Linked DNA regions of Homo sapiens: region 2 is linked to region 1. The links come from fine-mapping of genetic effects on gene expression. A gene starts in region 1. The other region holds a variant in brackets. All regions are shown on one strand. Distances are between the middles of the regions. Region 1 holds the start of CKM (creatine kinase, M-type). Region 2 overlaps MARK4 (microtubule affinity regulating kinase 4).

Evidence for each region. PIP is the estimated chance that this variant, and not a neighbour inherited with it, causes the effect.
Region 2: its variant is fine-mapped to the expression of CKM in whole blood (TOPMed, PIP above 0.99).

The regions. Positions count from the first base shown.
Region 1 is chr19:45,317,767-45,328,032 of GRCh38, reverse strand. It overlaps CKM (creatine kinase, M-type), which reads left to right and starts at 5,158. Exons shown (of 8, transcript NM_001824.5): 1 at 5,158-5,212; 2 at 8,302-8,512; 3 at 10,054-10,208. The coding sequence starts at 8,320. RefSeq lists an enhancer at 4,192-4,434.
Region 2 is chr19:45,291,504-45,301,769 of GRCh38, reverse strand. MARK4 (microtubule affinity regulating kinase 4) reads right to left here. Exons shown (of 17, transcript NM_001199867.2): 14 at 7,318-7,421; 15 at 3,816-4,094; 16 at 1,915-1,959. Among named protein-coding and RNA genes, the nearest start is that of CKM, 26 kb to the left of the region's middle. RefSeq lists a silencer at 9,934-10,136. The variant C/G (reference allele first, on the strand shown) is at 5,053.

The DNA.
Region 1 (10,266 bases):
AGGAAGAGATTAGGAAGACAAGCTCCAGGACTGACAGCCTAGTCCAGTCTTGTTCTGCTACTTCCCTGCTGTGTGACTTTCGATAAGTGTTGCAACCTCTCTGGGCCAGCCTTACTTTCCTGATTTGTAAAAACGGCAGTACCTTCTAGACTCCCAGAAGAAAAGTAAATTAAAAAAAAATTGGCAGTACTCACTTCATAGGACTGTTGGAAAATTAAACTAGTGAATACCCATTAAAGTCCTTGGACCCTGAAGTCAGATGGCTGGGGTGATGGGAGATGGGTTGGGGAAGTGGGTACACTAGAGCCTGATGACCTAGAAAGAGGCTGACAATACAGTCTGACGTCGGGGAGAAGCCTGGAAGTTATTTCCACCAAAGCCTGAATCCATTCTTGGCAGCCTTGTACCTGTTTGATTCCCAGTTCTGCCCCCTTCCAGCTGTGTGACTTTGGGCAAGTCACTTAACCTCTCTGAGCCTTATTGTTGGGGACGTTAAATAAGTCAACATATGTAAAGCACTTAGCACAGTACTTGACATACAGGTGTATTCAATAAAAGTTAACTGTCAGGGCCTGGAGTGGTGGTGCGCGCCTGTAGTCCCAGCTACTCGGGAGGCTGAAGCGGGAGGATTGCTTGAGGCTTGGAATTGGAGGCTGCAGTGCACTCTGATTGTGCCTGTGAATAACTACTGTGCTCCAGCCTGAGCAACATAGCGAGACCCCATCAAGAACCCATGTCTAAACAAACAAACAAACAAACAAAAGCTTCTTTGTGGAGTGGCTGTTTAATGTCCATGTTAACCTCCTTCGAGCACATTCTCCTGTCAATGAAGAGGCTGGAAAGCTAAAGACTAGATTTTCCAGAGGGAAAGTAGGAAAGTAGTTCTGGGGCCCGAGCAGTGTTCCTTCAGCCCTTCCAACGATTTTGTCAGTGCCTAATACATGATAGTACAGTCCTTTTTTTTTTTTTTTTTTTTGAGATGGAGTCTCGCTCTGTCGCCCAGGCTGAAGTGCAGTGGTGCGATCTCGGCTCACTGCAACTCCGCCTCCCGGGTTCACACCATTCTCCTGCCTCAGGCCCCGGAGTAGCTGGGACGACATGCGCCTGCCACCACGCACGGCTAATTTTTTTTTTTTTGTATATTTTTGTAGTAGAGACAGGGTTTCACCGTGTTAGCCAGGATAGTCTCGATCTCCTAACCTCGTGATCCGCCCGCCTCGGCCTCTCAAAGTGCTGGGATTACAGGCGTGAGCCACTGCGCCCAGCCAATAGCAGAGTCCTTTCTATTTAAGCTGGGTAGTGGTTACTCTCGCCTACATCTGCCAGATACAGTTACTATTATTTATTTAGTCAACAAATACTCATTTACCTTGAGGGCACTGGGGAGCCATGGCAAGCTCTGAGGAGGGGAGGTCAGCAGGTAGGGTTTAGGTGGGAATGGCAAAGACTGGGACAGGAGTCCAGGGAGGAAGTTGGGTCAGGAGGGACAGTGGAGGCGGTCTTGAGCTAGAGTGGGCAGTGGAGGGGCAGAGGTCGGATTGACAGTCGGGCTCTGGGGGGTGGGATGAAGATACGTGATGAGGGTTGTAAAGCTCCCCAAGGCCAACTGTTTCTTTAAGACTCAAAGCAGAGGGAGCTCACGGCACAAGGTCCTGCTGGAGCGTTTGATTGGCTCAGCCCAGGTCACTGGCCTGGACCATTGCTGCAAGGGATTCTGGGAAATTGAGTTTCTGGCATCTTTGGCTTCTCCAAAGGAGGAGGGCTTACAGTGGGGAATCCCCGAACATAGAAAAGGCTTCTGGCACTGTGTGGCTAAAAAGAATGTGCAATGGGCCCGGCAGGGTGCCTCACGCCTGTAATCCCAGCACTCTGGGAGGCCGAGGTGGGTGGATCACCTGAGGTAGGAGTCTGAGACTAGCCTGGCCAACATGGCAAAACCCCTTCTCTACTAAAAATATAAAAGTTAGCAGAGCGTGGTGGCCCATGCCTGTAGTCCCAGCTACTCGGGAGGCTGAGGCAGGAGAATCGCTTGAACCTGGGAGGCGGAGGTTGCAGTGAGCTGACATCGCACCATTGCACTCCTGCCTGGTGATAGAGCAAGACTCCATCTCAAAAAAAAAAAAAAAAAAACAAACCCTCCCACAAGGTGTGGCTGGACCGTGCCACCCAAAATGCGTGTGGCATGGATCCAGCCTCTTCCCTGCTTATGACCCTCAGTGCCTCCTGTCAGTCTCACAGTGGGATGATGATGATGATTTTTTCCATTTAATATTTTAAAAAATTATTCTAAAAAATTTTTTGTAGGTATTTAGTAGGTGTGTATATTTATGGGGTATATGAAACGTTTTGTTCTTTTTTTTTTTTTTTTTTTTGAGATGGAGTTTCACTCTTTTTGCCCAGGCTAGAGTGCAATGGCGCGATTTCGGCCCGCAGAAACCTCTGCCTCCCGAGTTCAAGCGATTCTCCTGCCTCAGCCTACCGAGTAGCTGGGATTACAGGCATGTGCCACCACCCCGGCTAATTTTGTATTTTTAGTAGAGACAGGGTTTCTCCACGTTGATCAGGCTGGTCTTGAACTCCCGACCTCAGGTGATCTGCCCACCTCGGCCTCCCAAAGTGCTGGGATTACAGGCGTGAGCCACTGCACCCGGCCATGAAATGTTTTGATACAGGCATGCAACTTGTAATAATCACATCGTGGAGAATGGGGTATCCATCTTCTCAAGCATTTATCCTTTATATTACAAACAATCCAATTATACTCCTTTAGTTATTTTAATTAATTTTTGTGTGTGTGAGACAGGGTCTCACTCTCTTGCCCAGGATGGAGTGCAGCAGTGGCTCGATCACAGCTCACTGCAGCCTCGACTGCCTGGGTTCAAGCAATCCTCCTGCCTCAGCCTCCTTGTTTTGATTTTTAGATCCCACAAATAACTTGTGATGTTTGTCTTTCTATACCTGGTTCATTTAACATTTTCTTTTTCTTTTCTTTTCTTTTTTTTTTTTTTTGTGAGACTGAGTCTTGCTCTGTCACTCAGGCTGGAGGGCAATGGTGCCATCTCAGCTCACTGCAACCTCCACCTCCTAGGTTCAAGCAATTCTTATGCCTCAGCCTCCTGGCTAGCTGGGATTACAGGCGTGTGTCACCATGCCAGGCTAATTTTTGTACTTTTAGTAGAGATGGGGTTTCACCATGTTGGCCAGGCTGGTCTTGAACTCCTGGCCTCAAGTGATCCACCCGCCTCCGCCTCTGCCTCCCAAAGTGCTGGGATTACGGGCCTGAGCCACTGTGCCCGGCCCATCTAACATTTTCACTGTCAATCACAATGGGATTAAAACTCCTCCCACAGCCCCTAGGGCACCATGGGTCTGCTCCTGTCTCCCCTCCAACCTCATCTTCTTCCTCCCACTCTCTCCTTGGCCCCATCTGCTCCAGTCCCCTGGCCTCCTTCCTGTCTGTCCTCAGATGTGCCCAGCCATTCTCACCTCAGCGCCTTTGCACCTGCTGTTCCCCCCAGAGCCGCACATGGCTGGCTCCCTGTTCTCCTTCAGGTCTCTGCTCAGATGTCATCTTCCCAAAGAGGCCTGCCTCGACCTCCCCTGCTGCTGTGCCGTCCCCTCATCTGTGACCCTCTTGCACTATCACCTCCAGGACGGCGGGGGTTTTGTGTTTTGTTGTAGCCTCAGGAAGTGCCTGATAGATCCCTGTTTCGAGACCAGTTCCATTTGGTTTTCTGGGCCTCAGTTTCCGTAACCGTGAAGGAGACCCTCGGCAATCTGAGCTTGCTGGGAAAGGGCTGGGCCCCATGTAAATATTTCTAAAGCACCCCTCTCCCCTCCCCCCTCAGATCAGGAGTCTGAGGGAGAGGCACAGAGGCTCCCTTTCTCTAAGCCAGTCCTCACCTGCCTAAGAAGATGTGAAGGAGACCCAGGAGACCCTGGGATAGGGAGGAACTCAGAGGGAAGGGACATTCTTTTCTTCGTCGCAATCCTGGGAGCTCCCTGGAGGAGGAGACCCGATCAGCCTGCAATCCTGGCGCGTCCCAGGAGGAGAAAGCGGCTTCCTCTATACTGTACTCTCCTCCACAGAACCCCCCTCTCAGCCCTGGAAGTCCTTGCTCACAGCCGAGGCGCCGAGAGCGCTTGCTCTGCCCAGATCTGCGCGAGTCTGGCGCCCGCGCTCTGAACGGCGTCGCTGCCCAGCCCCCTTCCCCGGGAGGTGGGAGCGGCCACCCAGGGCCCCGTGGCTGCCCTTGTAAGGAGGCGAGGCCCGAGGACACCCGAGACGCCCGGTTATAATTAACCAGGACACGTGGCGAACCCCCCTCCAACACCTGCCCCCGAACCCCCCCATACCCAGCGCCTCGGGTCTCGGCCTTTGCGGCAGAGGAGACAGCAAAGCGCCCTCTAAAAATAACTCCTTTCCCGGCGACCGAGACCCTCCCTGTCCCCCGCACAGCGGAAATCTCCCAGTGGCACCGAGGGGGCGAGGGTTAAGTGGGGGGGAGGGTGACCACCGCCTCCCACCCTTGCCCTGAGTTTGAATCTCTCCAACTCAGCCAGCCTCAGTTTCCCCTCCACTCAGTCCCTAGGAGGAAGGGGCGCCCAAGCGCGGGTTTCTGGGGTTAGACTGCCCTCCATTGCAATTGGTCCTTCTCCCGGCCTCTGCTTCCTCCAGCTCACAGGGTATCTGCTCCTCCTGGAGCCACACCTTGGTTCCCCGAGGTGCCGCTGGGACTCGGGTAGGGGTGAGGGCCCAGGGGGCACAGGGGGAGCCGAGGGCCACAGGAAGGGCTGGTGGCTGAAGGAGACTCAGGGGCCAGGGGACGGTGGCTTCTACGTGCTTGGGACGTTCCCAGCCACCGTCCCATGTTCCCGGCGGGGGGCCAGCTGTCCCCACCGCCAGCCCAACTCAGCACTTGGTCAGGGTATCAGCTTGGTGGGGGGGCGTGAGCCCAGCCCCTGGGGCGGCTCAGCCCATACAAGGCCATGGGGCTGGGCGCAAAGCATGCCTGGGTTCAGGGTGGGTATGGTGCGGGAGCAGGGAGGTGAGAGGCTCAGCTGCCCTCCAGAACTCCTCCCTGGGGACAACCCCTCCCAGCCAATAGCACAGCCTAGGTCCCCCTATATAAGGCCACGGCTGCTGGCCCTTCCTTTGGGTCAGTGTCACCTCCAGGATACAGACAGCCCCCCTTCAGCCCAGCCCAGCCAGGTACTGCACGGGGCGGGAATCTGGGTGGGGGCCAGAGTAGGGGATTTCTGTGGGTGCTAGAGGCTTGGCTTGGGAAAGGGTCTGTGTGTCACCCCTTGCTCCACCAACATCCTCCTATACAAAGGCAGGTCGGTGCGTGGGAAGGTTGACCCTTGTGTGTCTGGGAGGCCCCTCCATCTGTGAGGCTGCCTGAACCCCCCACTGGGACCTGTGATTTCTGCGGCACAAGTCTTGGGTTATGGGGAGGGATCCGAGATGAAAGGGGTCCTGACAGCTGCCAACTGTCACCCCCTGCAAGGGGCTGTTGAGCCAGGCCTGTGTTCATTACAGTTTGTCGCCAACACTGGCGCCACAAGCCGTGGGAGGTGTGTCTGTCGCCTAGCAGAGTCTGCAAGAGCAGGTGTCGCAGGCTTTCTTTGCGTTTGCTACTGTGTGGGTCCCTGTGACCTTGTTTCTGACTTAGTAGCGGACACATGAGTGTCCTGGGCATGTCCTTGAGTTTGGAAGTGTGACTGTGTGACTTAGTTTACAGTGTGATCTGGGGAGTCTGCGGTGGTGGGGGTGTGTGGCTCTGGGGCTTTCTGCTTATGTCTCTTGTGGGGGGGGTCACCACCCTGCCTCAGTGCCCTCTCCTGGGGTGTCCCTGGCAGGGATTAGGGGGGCATCCTCTGAAGGGAGGGGGTCTGGGCTGCCATCCCAGGATGTCCTTGAGCCCCGAGGCCTGGACCCGTGTCCTCCCAGCCACCCTGGCCCACCTGTCTTGGGCCTGCTGACTTGGTGCAAGCCGAGCCCCGGAATGTGGGGGTGGGGCGGGGCAGCAGCTGGGGGTGGGATGGCAGGCAGTTGCCAGATTCTAAAAATAACCACCCTGGACAGCAGCACCCAAGGTCTTTGGCGGGTCCCTGTTCCTCTTCCCTGGCTTCAGCTCACCGTGGTCCCAATCTCCCTCCCACAATCCCACCTGCTTCCCATCCCCGTCTCCCACCGCTGCTGGAGGCCCCTTCTCCTTTCTGGGTCCCTTCTCCTTTCTGGGTCCAGTGAATAAAATAATAATAACAGTAGGACCTGGCGCAGTGGCTCACACGCATAATCCCAGCATCTTGGGAGGCCGATGCTGGAGGATCACTTGAGGCCAGGAGTCCCAGACCAGCCTGGGCAACATAGTGAGACCCCATCTCTGCAAAAAAGTAGTAATAACAAATAACAATAATAGCAGCCACCAGGGTTCCAGGCTCCAACTCCATGCCAGGGCCTGTGCTCAGCCAACCTCATGGCCAAGCTCAGAGGATCCTGGCAATCCTACGGGGCAGGCTCAGTTCACAGGAGACAGAGGTCCAGAGAGGCCTAGTGACTGGCCTGGGGTCACACAGCAGGGAAATGGCATAGGTGGGATTTGAACCTGCCTCTGACGACCCAGAGGCTGAGCTTTTCTTCCCTTCTGAGCCCTGTGGGAGAACTGTCAGCAGGCAGAGGTGGGGGCAGCTACCCAGCCCTCCCCCGACCCAGCCCTTTGTCTTTGGATTGATAATCCAAGAACCTGCTCACATACTCCCAGCAGCACCCTCACCTCCACCTTCTCACCAGCTCCTCGCACGAACCTTTAAAATAACAACAACAGGCCAGGTGCCGTGACTCATGCCTGTAATCTCAGCACTTTGGGAGGCAGAGGTGGGCGGATCACTTGAGTTCAGGAGTTCAAGACCAGCCTGGCCAACATGGCGAAACCCCAACTCTACTAAAAATACCAAAAAAAAAAATAGCCAGGTGTGGCACACGCCTGTAGTTGCAGCTACTCAGGAGGCTGAAGCAGGATAGTTGCTTGAACCTGGGAGGTGGAGGTTGCAGTGAACTGAGATTATGCCACTGCACTCTAGCCTGGGCGACAGAGCGAGACTCTGTCTCAAACATAATAATAATAATAATAATAATAGCAGCTAAGTGAAATAATGCTTATTGTGTACCAGGCACTGTTCCGAGAGCTACACCTGTATTCACACATTTAATCTTTTCAACACTCCCATGCGGCAAGTGCTGTTAGGATCCTCATTTTCTAGATGAGTAAATTGAGGCACAGAGGTTAAGCAACTTGCCCCTGGCCACACAGCTGGTTGTAGGTAGCAGAGCTGGGAATCAAACCCTGGGCTGATTCCAGAACCTACACTCTTACCCACACAAAATATTTTTCCAGCCTCCGGGAGGGGCCCGTTTTCCACCTGGGGAAATTGAGTTTCCAGCAAGAATGACTAGTCCAGGCTCACCCAACTGGGATACGGCAGAGCCAGGCCCTTGATCTAAGACTCCGGATGCCTTCCTGCTGAGACACAGGGGCTCAGAGAGAGGATTTCTCTTGCTCCAAGTTACACAGCCTGCCTGACCCCAACGCCTTGCCCAGTTCTCTTGCTGCTGTCTGCAAGATGCGAGCTAGGCGGGGCACAGTGGCTCACGCCTGTAATCCCAGCACTTTGGGAGGCCGAGGCGGGTGGATCACTTGAGGCCAGGAGTTCGAGACCAGCCTGGCCAACCAGTAGAGATGGTGAAACCCCATCTCTAATAAAAATACAAAAAAATTAGCCAGGCATGGTGGTGTGCGCCTGTAATCCCAGCTACTCAGGAGGCTGAGACAGGAGAATCTCTTGAACCTGGGAGGTGGAGGCTGCAGTGAGCCGAGGTCTCGCCACTGCACTCCAACCTGGGTAACAGAGTGAGACTCCATCTCAAAAAAAAGAAGAAAAGGCCGGGTGCAGTGGCTCACGCCTGTAATCCCAGCACTTTGGGAGGCCGAGGCGGGCGGATCACAAGGTCAGGAGATCAAGACTATCCTGGCTAACATGGTGAAACCCCGTCTCTACTAAAAATACAAAAAATGAGCCGGCGTGGTGGCGGGCGCCTGTATTCCCAGCTACTCGGGAGGCTGAGGCGGGAGAATGGTGTGAACCCAGGAGGTGGAGCTTGCAGTGAGCCGAGATCGTGCCACTGCACTCCAGCCTGGGTGACAGAGCGAGACTCCGTCTCAAAAAAAAAAAAAGAAGAAGAAGAAGAAAAAAGATGCCAGCTAATCTTCAATCTTCCCCTCCTGCCCTGCCCATCAGGTCTCCTACACCGCCACCATGCCATTCGGTAACACCCACAACAAGTTCAAGCTGAATTACAAGCCTGAGGAGGAGTACCCCGACCTCAGCAAACATAACAACCACATGGCCAAGGTACTGACCCTTGAACTCTACAAGAAGCTGCGGGACAAGGAGACTCCATCTGGCTTCACTGTAGACGATGTCATCCAGACAGGAGTGGACAACCCAGGTGAGCCTCCCCAGTGGAGCACTGAAGGGGCTACATGGGGGCTCTGGAGGCTGCCGGCCATGCCCCAATCCCACCACCCTTGAAGGGGGGGGGGCCTCAGTTTTCTCATCTGTAAAATGGGGCTGTTGTGGGAATCAATGCATTAATATACATAAAGGCTTGGGACAGTGCGAGGTACTCAGCAAACCACGCAATAAACATGCACGAGAATAATGTGAGATCCCCAAGGAGGTCGGTTCACCTCCTGAACCTCAGTCTCCTCATCTGAAAAATGGGCGCCCACGTTGTGAAAACACAAGTCAATGGCTGTGCAGTGCTTAGAGTGGCACCTGGCACCAAGTGAGTGCTCAAGCTCTGACAGGGGGGCCAGGTGCAGTGGCTCATGCCTGTAATCCCAGCACTTTGGGAGGCCCAGGTGGGAGGATCACTTGAGGCCAGGAGTTTGAGACCAGCCTGAGCAACATAGCAAGACCCTGTCTCTACAAAAAATACAAAAAAATTAGCCAAGTGTGGTGATGAGGGCTTGTGGTCCAAGCTACTCAGGAGGCTGCGGTGGGAGGATCGCTTGAGCCTGGGAGGTGCAGGTTGCAGTAAGCCGAGATCGCGCCACTGTACTCCAGCCACAGAGTGAGACCCTGTCTCAAAAAAAAAAAAAAAGAATCTGACAGGGGATGTTATTAATGTTATGGTTGTTTCTCAAAGGACATTGCAAGGCGAAGAGAGCTGGGAGTGGAGGGGAGGCTCTAGTGCCCCTCACATCCAGCTCACTGTGTGATGCCGGGGAGAAGCCCCTCTCTCCTGGCCCCTGTTTTTCCACTGGGAAACAAGAGGGTCTTTCAAGTCTCTTACCCTCCTGACCCTCTGTGGTACGGTGGTAGCCTGAGATCCTAACATTTCAGGCTAAGATGTCATGACTTTGGGTGCTAATGTTTCCGAGGTGCTGATGCTTTTAGCACCATGTACCCTCTGAAGCTCCCCTTTCTCCTTTGACCCCGCCCCCAGCACTCTTTCTTCTCTCCCACCTTGACCCCTCCCAGCCACCTTGACCTCTCCCAGCCTTCCCTCCCAGTTCCCACCAGTCCTCAGTGTTCTCTCTTTTTTTTTTTTTCCTTTGGAGACAGAGTCTTGCTCTGTCACCCAGGCTGGAGTGCAGTGGTGTGATCTTGGCTCACTGCAACCTCCACTCCCTTGGTTCAAGCAATTCTCATGCCTCAGCCTCCTGAGTAGCTGGGATTACAGGTGTGTGCCCCACACCCAGCTAATTTTTGTATTTTTAGCAGAGATGGGGTTTCACCCTGTTGGCCAGGCTGGTCTCACACTCCTGACCTCAAGAGATTCACCCGCCTCACCCTCCCAAAGTGCTGGGATTGCAGGCATGAGCCACTGTGCCCAACCCTTATGATTCTCAATTCCCACCCAGAGGTATTGAATGTACCCGCCCCCATCCCGACACACATGTCCACACAGGCTCCACTGAGCCCACAAGCCCACGCCCTGTTTGCTGGGGACAAGCAGCTCTGACCTCACCCCCACCCCTCCAGGTCACCCCTTCATCATGACCGTGGGCTGCGTGGCTGGTGATGAGGAGTCCTACGAAGTTTTCAAGGAACTCTTTGACCCCATCATCTCGGATCGCCACGGGGGCTACAAACCCACTGACAAGCACAAGACTGACCTCAACCATGAAAACCTCAAGGTCGGTGTCTGCGCAGGAGGGGAGGGCCGAGGGGTGAGGAGGAGAGAGATCACAGGAG
Region 2 (10,266 bases), 26 kb after region 1:
CCATAGCCTCCTGAGTAGTTGGGATTACAGGCACGCGCCACCACGCCTGGCCCCAGCTAATTTTTGTATTTTTAGTAGAGACACGGTTTCACCGTGTCAGCCAGGATGGTCTCGATCTCCTGACCTTGTGATCTGCCCGCCTCGACCTCCCAAAGTGCTGGGATTACAGGTGTGAGCCACTGCGCCCGGCTTTTTTTTTTTTTTTTTTTTTTGAGACAGAGTTTCGCTCTTGTCGCCCAGGCTGGAAGGCAATGACACAATCTTGGCCCACTGCAACCTCTGCTTCCCGGGTTCAAGCAATTCTCCTGCCTCAGCTTCCCAAGTAGCTGGGAGAACAGGCACCACGGCCAGCTAATTTTTGTATTTTTAGTAGAGACGGAGTCTCACCATGTTGGGCAGGCAGGTCTTAAACTCCCGGCCTCAGGTGATCCACCTGCCTTGGCCTCCCAAAGTGCTGGGATTACAGGCGAGAGCCACAGTGCCCGGCCACTTCTTAGTTTTTTTGAGACAGGGTCTTGCAATGCAGTAGTGCAATCACAGCTCACTGCAGCCTCGACCTCCTGGGCTCAAGTGATCCTCCTGCCTTGGCCTCCTGAGTTGTTGGAATTACAGGCATAAGCCACTGTGCTCGGCCTCTGGGGGCTTTTTGATTGTCACATGTCTTAGGATGGGAGCACTGCTGGCACTGACTAGGTTGGGGATGGGGTAGGTCAGGAATGAAAAACATTCTCCAATGTGCAAGAGGGCCCTGCACAACAAAGAAACGTCCCGCCTGAAGTACGAGAGTGCTGCTCTACATGAGCATCCCAGGACTAGCCTCCCTTGTTCCGGTGGGGCCGCCCCTCAGCTTGGGTGAGCACGACTCAGCTCTGCCAATGATAGCATTCTACTTCCCGGCCACTGTGCTTGGGTCAAGGGTGACCACATGACCAGGTCTGACCAACCAGAGTACTTCTCCTCTCTGGCTGCAGGCATTGGTTTAGGAATGAGCATGTGACCAAGTCCCAACCAATGAGAGTCAGCCCTGGCAGTTTGTTGCAGCTGCTGGGAAGGCTCCGGTTTCCACTTGGGTCTCTAAACCGGGAACTCAGACAAAACCAGGGCTTGGCAAACTCCAGTGCTGTCTGCTTTTGTAAATAAAGTTTCATTGGAACACTGCCATACCCATTTGTTTTGTGTTGAATATGACTGCTTTTGCACTACAATGGCACAACTGAACAGGCGTGACACAGGGTGCCTGGCCCTCAAAGCCTAAAATCTTCATGATCTGGGTCCGTACAGATGTTTGCCTCCTGCTGGCCCTGAGCTGCCAGCAAACATTGTGCCATGACTGGATGAGAGGCAAAAGGAGGTGGGGGCATTGACCAGAAGAGGAGTTGAGTTGTGGATGGGATGAGGCTTTTTTTTTTTTTTTTTTTTTTTTTTCAGACGGAGTTTCACTCTTGCTACCCAGGCTGGAGTGCGATGGCACAATCCAGCTCACCGCAACCTCTGCCTCCCGGGTTCAAGCGATTCTCCTGCCTCAGCCTCCCGAGTAGTTGGGATTACAGGCATGCGCCACTACGCCCGGCTAATTTTTGTATTTTTAGTAACGACGGGGTTTCTCCATCTTAGGCTGGTCTCAAACTCCCGACCTCAGGTGATCTGCCTCCCTTGGACTCCCAAAGTGCTGGGATTACAGGCTTGGGCCATGGCACCCAGCCGGAGGCTGAAGTTTAAGATGATCAAGGGAAGGTGCTTGGGGTTGGGTGGGAATGAGAGGAGCTGGCAGAGAAGGCTGGGGCCACAGGGCATTTCAGGAAGTTGGCCTTGCAGGATGAGACTGGGGCCCCATCTAATGCCCTGGGGTAAGTGTCGGGAGGTGCTGAGGCAGGAGAGGGGAAGTGGCAGTCAGGGGTAGGCCCAAGCACTCACCTTGTGACCTCAGGTCCCCCGATTCTCTCAGGTTCGTCTGCGACCCTAGGGGAGGGGAGGGGGACAGAGTGTCTAATCTGGACATAGGGAACCCACCTCCCGCAACCCACTGCCTCTGGGACTCCAAGCAGCCCCTGCCTCAACCCCAGTCCCTCCGGGCTGGTGAGGGCCTGGAGTCAGGATTTGATCTCCTTGTCCATCCCCATAACGGGGCTCATTCTGAAATGGTTAGTGCAGGTCACAGGAAAGATACTGAAGAATGTGGAAGATGAAAGGGAGGGGAGTGGGCAGAGACACACCCTTACATAGATAAGTGGCCACAGAGAGAAAGAGAGAGACACACGCACGTGTGCACACACACACACTCCCTCGCTCACATATACATTCATGCTTTGCTCAAACAACACCTCCTTCGTGAGGCCTGCCCTTTTTTCTTTTTTTGAGACAGAGTCTCACTCTGTCATGCAGGAGTGGCGTGATCTCAGCTCGCTGCAGCCTCAACCTCCCAGGCTCAAGCAATCTTCCTGCCTTGGCCCCTGAAGTAGCTGGGACTACAGGCGCGTGCCACATCTGCTTTTTGTTTTTTGTTTTGTTTTGTAGAGATGGGGCTTTGCCACATTGCCCAGGCTGGTCTCAAACTCCTGGACTCAAGTCATCTGTCCAAAGTGCTGGGATTGCTGGCCTGAGCCACCTCATCCAGAGGCCTGCCCATTTAATGCTGCACCCCATCCCTTCCCCACACCCCTTATTCCCCTCCCTGTTCAATTTTTTTTTTTTTTTTTTTTTTTTTTAGAGACAGGTTCTCCCTCTGTTGCCAAGACTGATGATCATAGCTCACAGCAGCCTTGACCTCCTGCGTTCAAGTGATCCTCCTGCCTCGGCCTCCCAATTCCATGGGAATACAGGTGCAGTCACCACGCCCGGCCAATTTATTTACTTTTTTGTAGAGATAGGATCTTGCTACGTTGTCCAGGCTGGTCTTGAACTTCTGGGCTCAAGTGATCCCCTCGCCTCAGCCTCCCAAAGTGCTGTGATTACAAGCATAAGCCACCAAATTTGGCTCCTACTCTATTTTTCTTCTTAGTTACTTCGCACTACCTAGCAGTCTATATAGTAAGTATATTTTACTTATTTCTTTGTTTTTTGTCTAGATCCCTTAGTAGAATGTTGGGTCTGCCAGGGCAGGAGTTTTGTACATTTTGCTCACCCTCTACTACAGGGCCTAGGACAGTGCCAGGCACACAGTAGGGGCTCAATGAATAATAGCAATTAATAACTAATACACATGTAAAGCACTTTCCAAGGCAATGTTCTACGCTCAGTCCATACGTCACTTCATTTAGTCCTCACAATAACCCTAGGAGACAGGTATTGTTATTACTATACCCATTTTACAGAAGAGGAAAACCAGGCCCAGAGACCTTGAGTGACTTGCTCAAGGTCACTTGGCAGAGCTGCCATTTGAACCCCCGAGTCTGGCTCCATAGGCTGTGCTTCTGTGAGTAAATGAACAACCAGACCCCACGCACAGACCCTCACATCCACAGAGCCCCCTCCCAATGCCCGCACACACAGGTCAGACATGCAGGCAGGGAGGCAGAGCCAGCGAGAACAGGGCATGGACGGGACTTACTGATCTTGGATCCCTGGGGCAGAGAGGCGCCCGAAACACAGCGGTTAGAGTTCTGCCGTTTAGAGGGATCGAGGGTAACCCTGCAGTGTGAGGAGGGAGGTGAGGGGTGACAGGGGAGGAGGAAAGGAGGAGGAGGAGGAGGAAACGAGGAGGAGGAGGAGGAGGAAGAGGAAATGTTGGGGTACAGGAGACAGAGCAGAGTGGAAGACAGGTTAGGTCCCATCGGCCCCCCGCCCCGCCCTGCCCCTGCCATCCCCGCGGAGCTCACCTTCGGGTCAGTTTGGAGGTCAGCTTGGTGAAGAGGTTGGTGGTGGGGCGGGGCCGCCCGGCGGGCAGGGGTGCAGCCTCATGGGCCAGTGTGGGAGAGGCAGGGGGCCCATTCTGCACACCCCCACCACCCCCACCCCCTGCCCGCCGGTCCCGGACCTGGCCACCATGGAAGGTGCTGCGGATGGTGGAACCACGTGCCAGGCGGCTCCGCTCCCCTGATGGGGGTGCCAGGCTGTGACTGGAGGGGGAGGCAGGGGGCACCCGTGGGGTGCCTGAGCTGTGGGCAGAGACAGACAAGTCAGGGTGGGGGACTGAGGCAGGCCAGGGCCCCAGTCCCTTTGATTCTTCACATTCCTGTCCTGAGACCAGGGACTGCAACCAGCCTGGAACTCAGAGACAGGGCTGCAACGTACAGTTGTGCAGGCTGTGCACTATACAATCCTAGCATTATTTTACTGACTCTCTCCTCTCCTATTACCCCTCCTTCAAACTGTCCCTTCTTCAAACTCTACCCGCTCCAAATCATCTCCTATCACAACTCTCCTCTCTCTAAACGCAGCAACTGAATAGATGCACAGACATTTTTGGGTGACTTCCTTGCTATTTGCCGAAACCTCAGGAACCAAATCAACTTGGCAAACACTTTGCTATCTGAACTCTCACCATCTAAAATCAGGAAAGGGATAGATGTAAAGGTCAAGGATACCTGTATTCACTATGGTAATCTGGGCAGTGGGGGTTCCACTGTCCCAGGACCCTCCTCCAGCCCCTCGGACCCTCCTAGTCGACAGCAGGGGCCAGACCTCCATCTCCTGAGTTCAATTCTCCTGCCTCACCCTCCTGAGTAGCTGGGATTACAAGCGTGTGCCACCATGCCTGGCTAATTTTTTTTTTTTTTTTTTTTGAGACAGAGTCTCACTCTGTCACCTAGGCTGAAGGGCCATGGGGCAATCTTGGCTACTGCAACCTCTGCCTCCTGGGTTCAAGTGATTCTCCTGCCTCAGCCTCCTGAGTAGCTGGGACTATAGGCATGCAGCACCACGCCTGGGTAGTTTATGTATTTTCAGGAGAGATGGGGTTTCACCATGTTGGCCAGGCTGGTCTCAAACTCCTCACCTCAGGTGATCCACTGGCCTTGGCCTCCCAAAGTGCTGGGATTCCAGGTGTGAGCCACTGCGCCCAGCCCAGACCTCCAATTTCTATCCTCCCAGGGACTCCAGGCCCAGCCTGGATCT[C/G]AGAGAAGAATCCTGATTGTGGCAGAGGCTGTTACTTCTCCCTTAGAATCCATCCTCCCTGTTTCGTTCTTGGTAACCAAACCCCTAAGAGTATGAGCACTGCACATGGCCACCCAGCCAGAGACTACATTTCCCAGACTCTCTTGCAGCTAGAGATGGTTATGTGACCATGCTCCGGCCAATGGGATATAAGCAGAAGTGCTCTGTACCATCTCTGGGTGACGCCTTTACAAAGAGTTGTTGCTTGTCCCCTACTCTTTCCCCACTTCTTCCTGATTGGGAAATGATGGCTGCTGGTGCAGCGGCCTCAGTCCCAGAGCTGGAAACTCATTTTGGGGCTGGAAGAACTTACCTGGGTCCTTGGAGGACCCTCCGGACTAAACGTCCTTTTTATTTAAATTACTCTACCCTGGGATCTCTTTGTTTTTATTACAGCAGCTAGCTGAGTCTATACTTTTTATTTTTTGTTGTTTTTAAATTTTTTTTTAATTTTTGATTTTTTTTGTCTGAGTCTGTAATTTAACTGTTCCACTATCTCTTGAGCAGAACTGGAAGGCCATGTACTACAGTGATTACAAATAAGATTCTGGAGTCAAGTCTGGAATCTGCTTCTTGACTTACCAGCTGTGTGGCCTTGGATAAGTTACTTAACCTCTCTGTGCCTTATGTCCTCAGCTGTAAAATGGAGATATTAGGATCTACCTCACAGAGTTGTTAGGGGCACTGAGCCAGGCAATAGACATAGAAGCCTGGCATGTAGCTGCTGCTTCATGAATGTTCACTATTGTTATTTGATAACCACCAAAAAAAAGCACTCTCAAGTCACTGAATGAAGGCCTCCTAAGCATCAGACCCAGTGCCAGGTACAGGACACACCTGATCTCTACTGCATCTCTATAATGGGGCCTGGAAGTGGACAGCATCAGCCCTTTTTTTTATGAGACGGATTCTTGCTGTGTGGCTCAGGCTGGAGTACAGTGGCGCAATCCCAGCTCACTGCAACCTCTGCCTCCCAGGTTCAAGCGATTCTCCTGCCTCATTCAGCCTTCTGAGTAGCTGGGATTACATGCACATGACATCGTTCCTGGCTAATTTTTGTATTTTTAGTAGAGACAGGGTTTCATCATGTTGGCCAGGCTGGTCTCGAACTCCTGACCTCAGGTGATCTGCCCACCTCGGCCTCACAAAGTGCTGGGATTACAGGTGTGAGCCACCATGCCCGGCCAGCATCAAGCCCATTTTACCGAGGAGGAAACAGAGGCACAGGGATTTACCCGGTCATTCTGCTAGCAGTGTGAGCACAGAGGTAAGATTCGAACTCAGAACTGAGTATTCACAGAATCGTGACTTTTTTTTTTTGAGATGGAGTCTCGCTCTGTTGCCCAGGCTGGAGTGCAGTGGCGTGATCTCGGCTCACTGCAAACTCCGCCTTCCAGGTTCACGCCATTGTCCTGCCTCTGCCTCCAGAGTAGCTGGGACTACAGGTGCCCACCACTGCACCCAGCTAATTTTTTTTTTTTTTTGGTATTTTTAGTAGAGACGGGGTGTCACCATGTTAGCCAGGATGGTCTCGATCTCCTGACTTCTTGATCCACCTGCCTCAGCCTCCCAAAGTGCTGGTATTACAGGCATGAGCCACTGTGCCTGGACAGATTTGTGACTGTTAACTACCCCATTCCTCTGCCCACACCCAGTGGGAACACCTGCACCCACTAATCAGGTGCATCCCAGAGTGTGCCCTGGTGTTGGCCATCAACCTGCCCTACAGCCCTGGTGGGGGGCAGTGTCCTCATCCTGGAGCTGGCCCCATTCTAGCTGGCCTTGACCTGTGATGTGAACCAATCCCTTCCCTCTCTCTGCTCCAGCCAGTCTGAACTGGTTTCCCTCCCTTGCCAGCTGGAAGAGACCTCACAGACTCAGGCCAACAAGCCGGAAAACCAGCCAACCAGATGACGCTGAAGCTGTGACATTCTGGGGCTTCTCTCGAGTTCTAAAAATGGATCATTCAAAAAATCAATTCAGGTTCCCAAGGCTTGTAGGCGGAGAACAGGGCCAACTGCTTTCCTGGTGCTTAAGACTAATTAATTAAGTGGGGAGGATTTTCAGGGGGGTACATGGGTCGATTCTGCCAAGGGCAGGGCAGATACACTCACTCTCTGGTCCCCATGGCACCAGCCTCCAATGCCTATCATCTCAGATCAAGGGAGGTCCTGTTCACCTACCCCCTACTTCCCACCCCTCACCCTGTTGCTGCCCCCTCCGTACCTGTTTTCTTTCCCATTTGGCAACAGTGACGGGCGCTCAGCCCCCGGGCGTTCTGTGCAAACGTAGGTGTTTCTGCGGGTCATCATGCTAGGAGGGAGGTTGTTCTGCAGGAGACACAGCCAGGAAGGGAGTGAGGGGGTGAAGACATGCCCCTGAGCTTCTCCCTCTTCCCTTCTCTGCCCTCCCCATCGATGAATAAGTCAGGGGCTCATGTGGGAACCCAGGGTGAGTAGGAGATGGTGAAAGGTCCCAAAGATGTGAAAGGTTCATGAGTAATCCCAGCCACCGAGGCTGAGTCAGGGGAGACCCCTGGAGACCGGAGAAGAGGGGGGCACTGAGGGAAAACGAGGCAGGGAAGGTTTCCAGGGGGCATCCTTGTCCACCGCTCTTCTCCCAGCAATGCCCACCTTCTTGAGGTCCAGCCCAGCCACACCAAACGTTTGCTAATGTACTTATTCATGCCACATTCTGTCACTGTGACTAGCCTGTGCACTGGCTGTCTCACCTGTTAGAACATTACTCCTACCTTTTCCCCTGACTCACTCCTACATATCTTTCAGGTGTCAGTTCATAATCTACCACCACCCCCGGCCCCAGGCTGAGTCACGTGCCTCCTCCTTTGGGTTCCCACAGGCCCCTGGGCTCCCCACTGCAGCTTCAATCACTGTGCTGTCAATGTCTGTTCTCATATATGTCCCCATCCCATACTGGGCTGTGAGCTCTGGGAACACAGGGAATATCAGGATTATGCTGCCTCATAAACATGTTAGGAAGAGAGCCCTCTTTTTCTATTCTCTGGAAGTTTGTCTAAGGTTAGTGTTATTTCTTCTTTAAGTGTTTGGAAGAATTCCACTGGTGGGAGTCATCCAAGCCAAAAATTTTCTTTATAGGGAAGGTTTTCAGTTACGAATTCAATTTCTTTAACAAGAATATAAGACTGTTCAGGTTTTCTATTTCTTCTTGTGTCAGTTTTGATACAGTGTGTTTTTAAAGTAATGTGTCCATTTCATCTAAGCTGTTAAATTTATTGGCACAAAGTAGTTCCTAATATCATCTTACTATCTTTTAATGTTAGAACAAAGTTCCCCTTTTCATTGTGGATACTGGTGATTCATGTTTGCTGTCTTTTTTCCTTAATTGATTTTTACCAGGGGTCCATTGGATTTTATTTATTTATTTATTTTTTTGGACAGAGTTTCACTCATTTTGCCCAGGCTGGAGTGCAATGGCATGATCTCAGCTCACTGCAACCTCCACCTCCCAGATTCAAGTGAACCTGCCTTAGTCTCCCGAGTAGCTGGGATTACAGGTGTGGACCACCACATCCAGCTAATTTTTTGTATTTTTGGTAGAGATGGGGTTTCACCATGCTGGCCAGGCTGGTCTCAAACTCCTGACCTCAAGTGATCCACCCGCCTCAGCCTCCCAAAGTGCTGGGATTACAGGCATGAGCCACCACGCCCAGACTGATTTTATTAATCTTTTCAAAAAACCAACTTTAGGTTTTGTTGCTTTATTGTACCTCTTCTTTCTCCTTCACTGATTTATTCTCTTTAATGCCTCCTCCCTTCTACTTTTTTTGAGATGGGGTCTTGTTCTGATGCCTAGGCTGGAGTGCAGTGGGGTGATCATGGCTCACTGCAGCCTCGACCTCCTGGCCTCAAGTGGATCCTTTCACCTCAGCCTCCCAAGTAGCTAGAACCTCAGGCATGTGCCACAACACTTAGCTAATTTTTATTTTTGGCAGAGACAGGGTCTATGTTGTCCAGGCTGGTCTTGAACTCCTGGGCTCAAGCAATCCTCCTGCCTCAGCCTCCCGAACTGCTGGGATTACAGGCATGAGCCACCAATTCCGGTCCCTTCTACTTTCTTTGAGGTTTATTTGCTTTTCCTTTTTTACCTTCTTAAGGTGTGGGTTTCGTTTAGCAATAACAATAGCTCTCATTCACTGAGTGCTTACTGTGCCAGTATGTGAAGTACTTCACGTATGAGATCTTACAAGATCCTCACAATGACCCAGGTTCTTTAATGAGCCCATTTCACATAGTGAGATATCAAAGATCAGAGAGGTGAAGTTACTTGCCCAAGGTCACACGGCTCATTAATGTAATTCAAACTCTACGTGGCTTCAGAGTCCCGGCCACTTTCTCAAACTGCCTCCACCCTTTTTCTCTTTTTTAAGAGATAGGATCTCACCATGTTGCCCAGGCTGGTCTCGAACTCCTGGCCTCAAGCAATCCTCCCACCTCAGCCTCCCAAGTAGCTGGGACTACATGTGTGTGCCACCATGTCCAGCTCTGCCTCCACTCTCCTGTTCCTATGTTGAGGATATTTTCGTACTTTGCTGTTCTTGGGAACTCAGATGCAAAAAAGCCAAGTCCTACATTTCCCAGAATCCTTTGCAGCTCAGGTTCTGCATATAAGTTGGGTTCTGCCAATCTTTGCATTCATGAAGATTTGGAAGGTGGAAATGGGGCAGCAGCTGCTCTCCTGCCTGCTTTGACTTCAGCTCACACAGGCAAGGCTATGAGATGAAGGTCTTTGCTTCAGCAGGGCCCCAGTGCCTATTGTCCAGCCCTCTGGGCATCAAGAAGCTCTTCTGATGGAGGATGAAGTTTTTGAGTCTTGGGTTACAGCCATGACAATGTGGTTTTTTGTTTTGTTTTGTTTTGAGACAGAGTCCCACCCTGTCACCCAGGCTGGAGTGCAGTAGGGCAATCTCAGCTCACTGCAACCTCCGCCTCCTAGGTTCATGCCATTCTCCTGCCTCAGCCTCCCGAGTAGCTGGGACTACAGGTGCCCGCCACCAAGCCCGGCTAATTTTTTGTATTTTTAGTAGAGATGGGGTTTCACCGTGTTAGCCAGGATGGTCTCGATCTCCTGACCTCGTGATCCGCCCGCCTCAGCCTCCCAAAGTGCTGGGATTACAGGCGTAAGCCACCGCGCCTG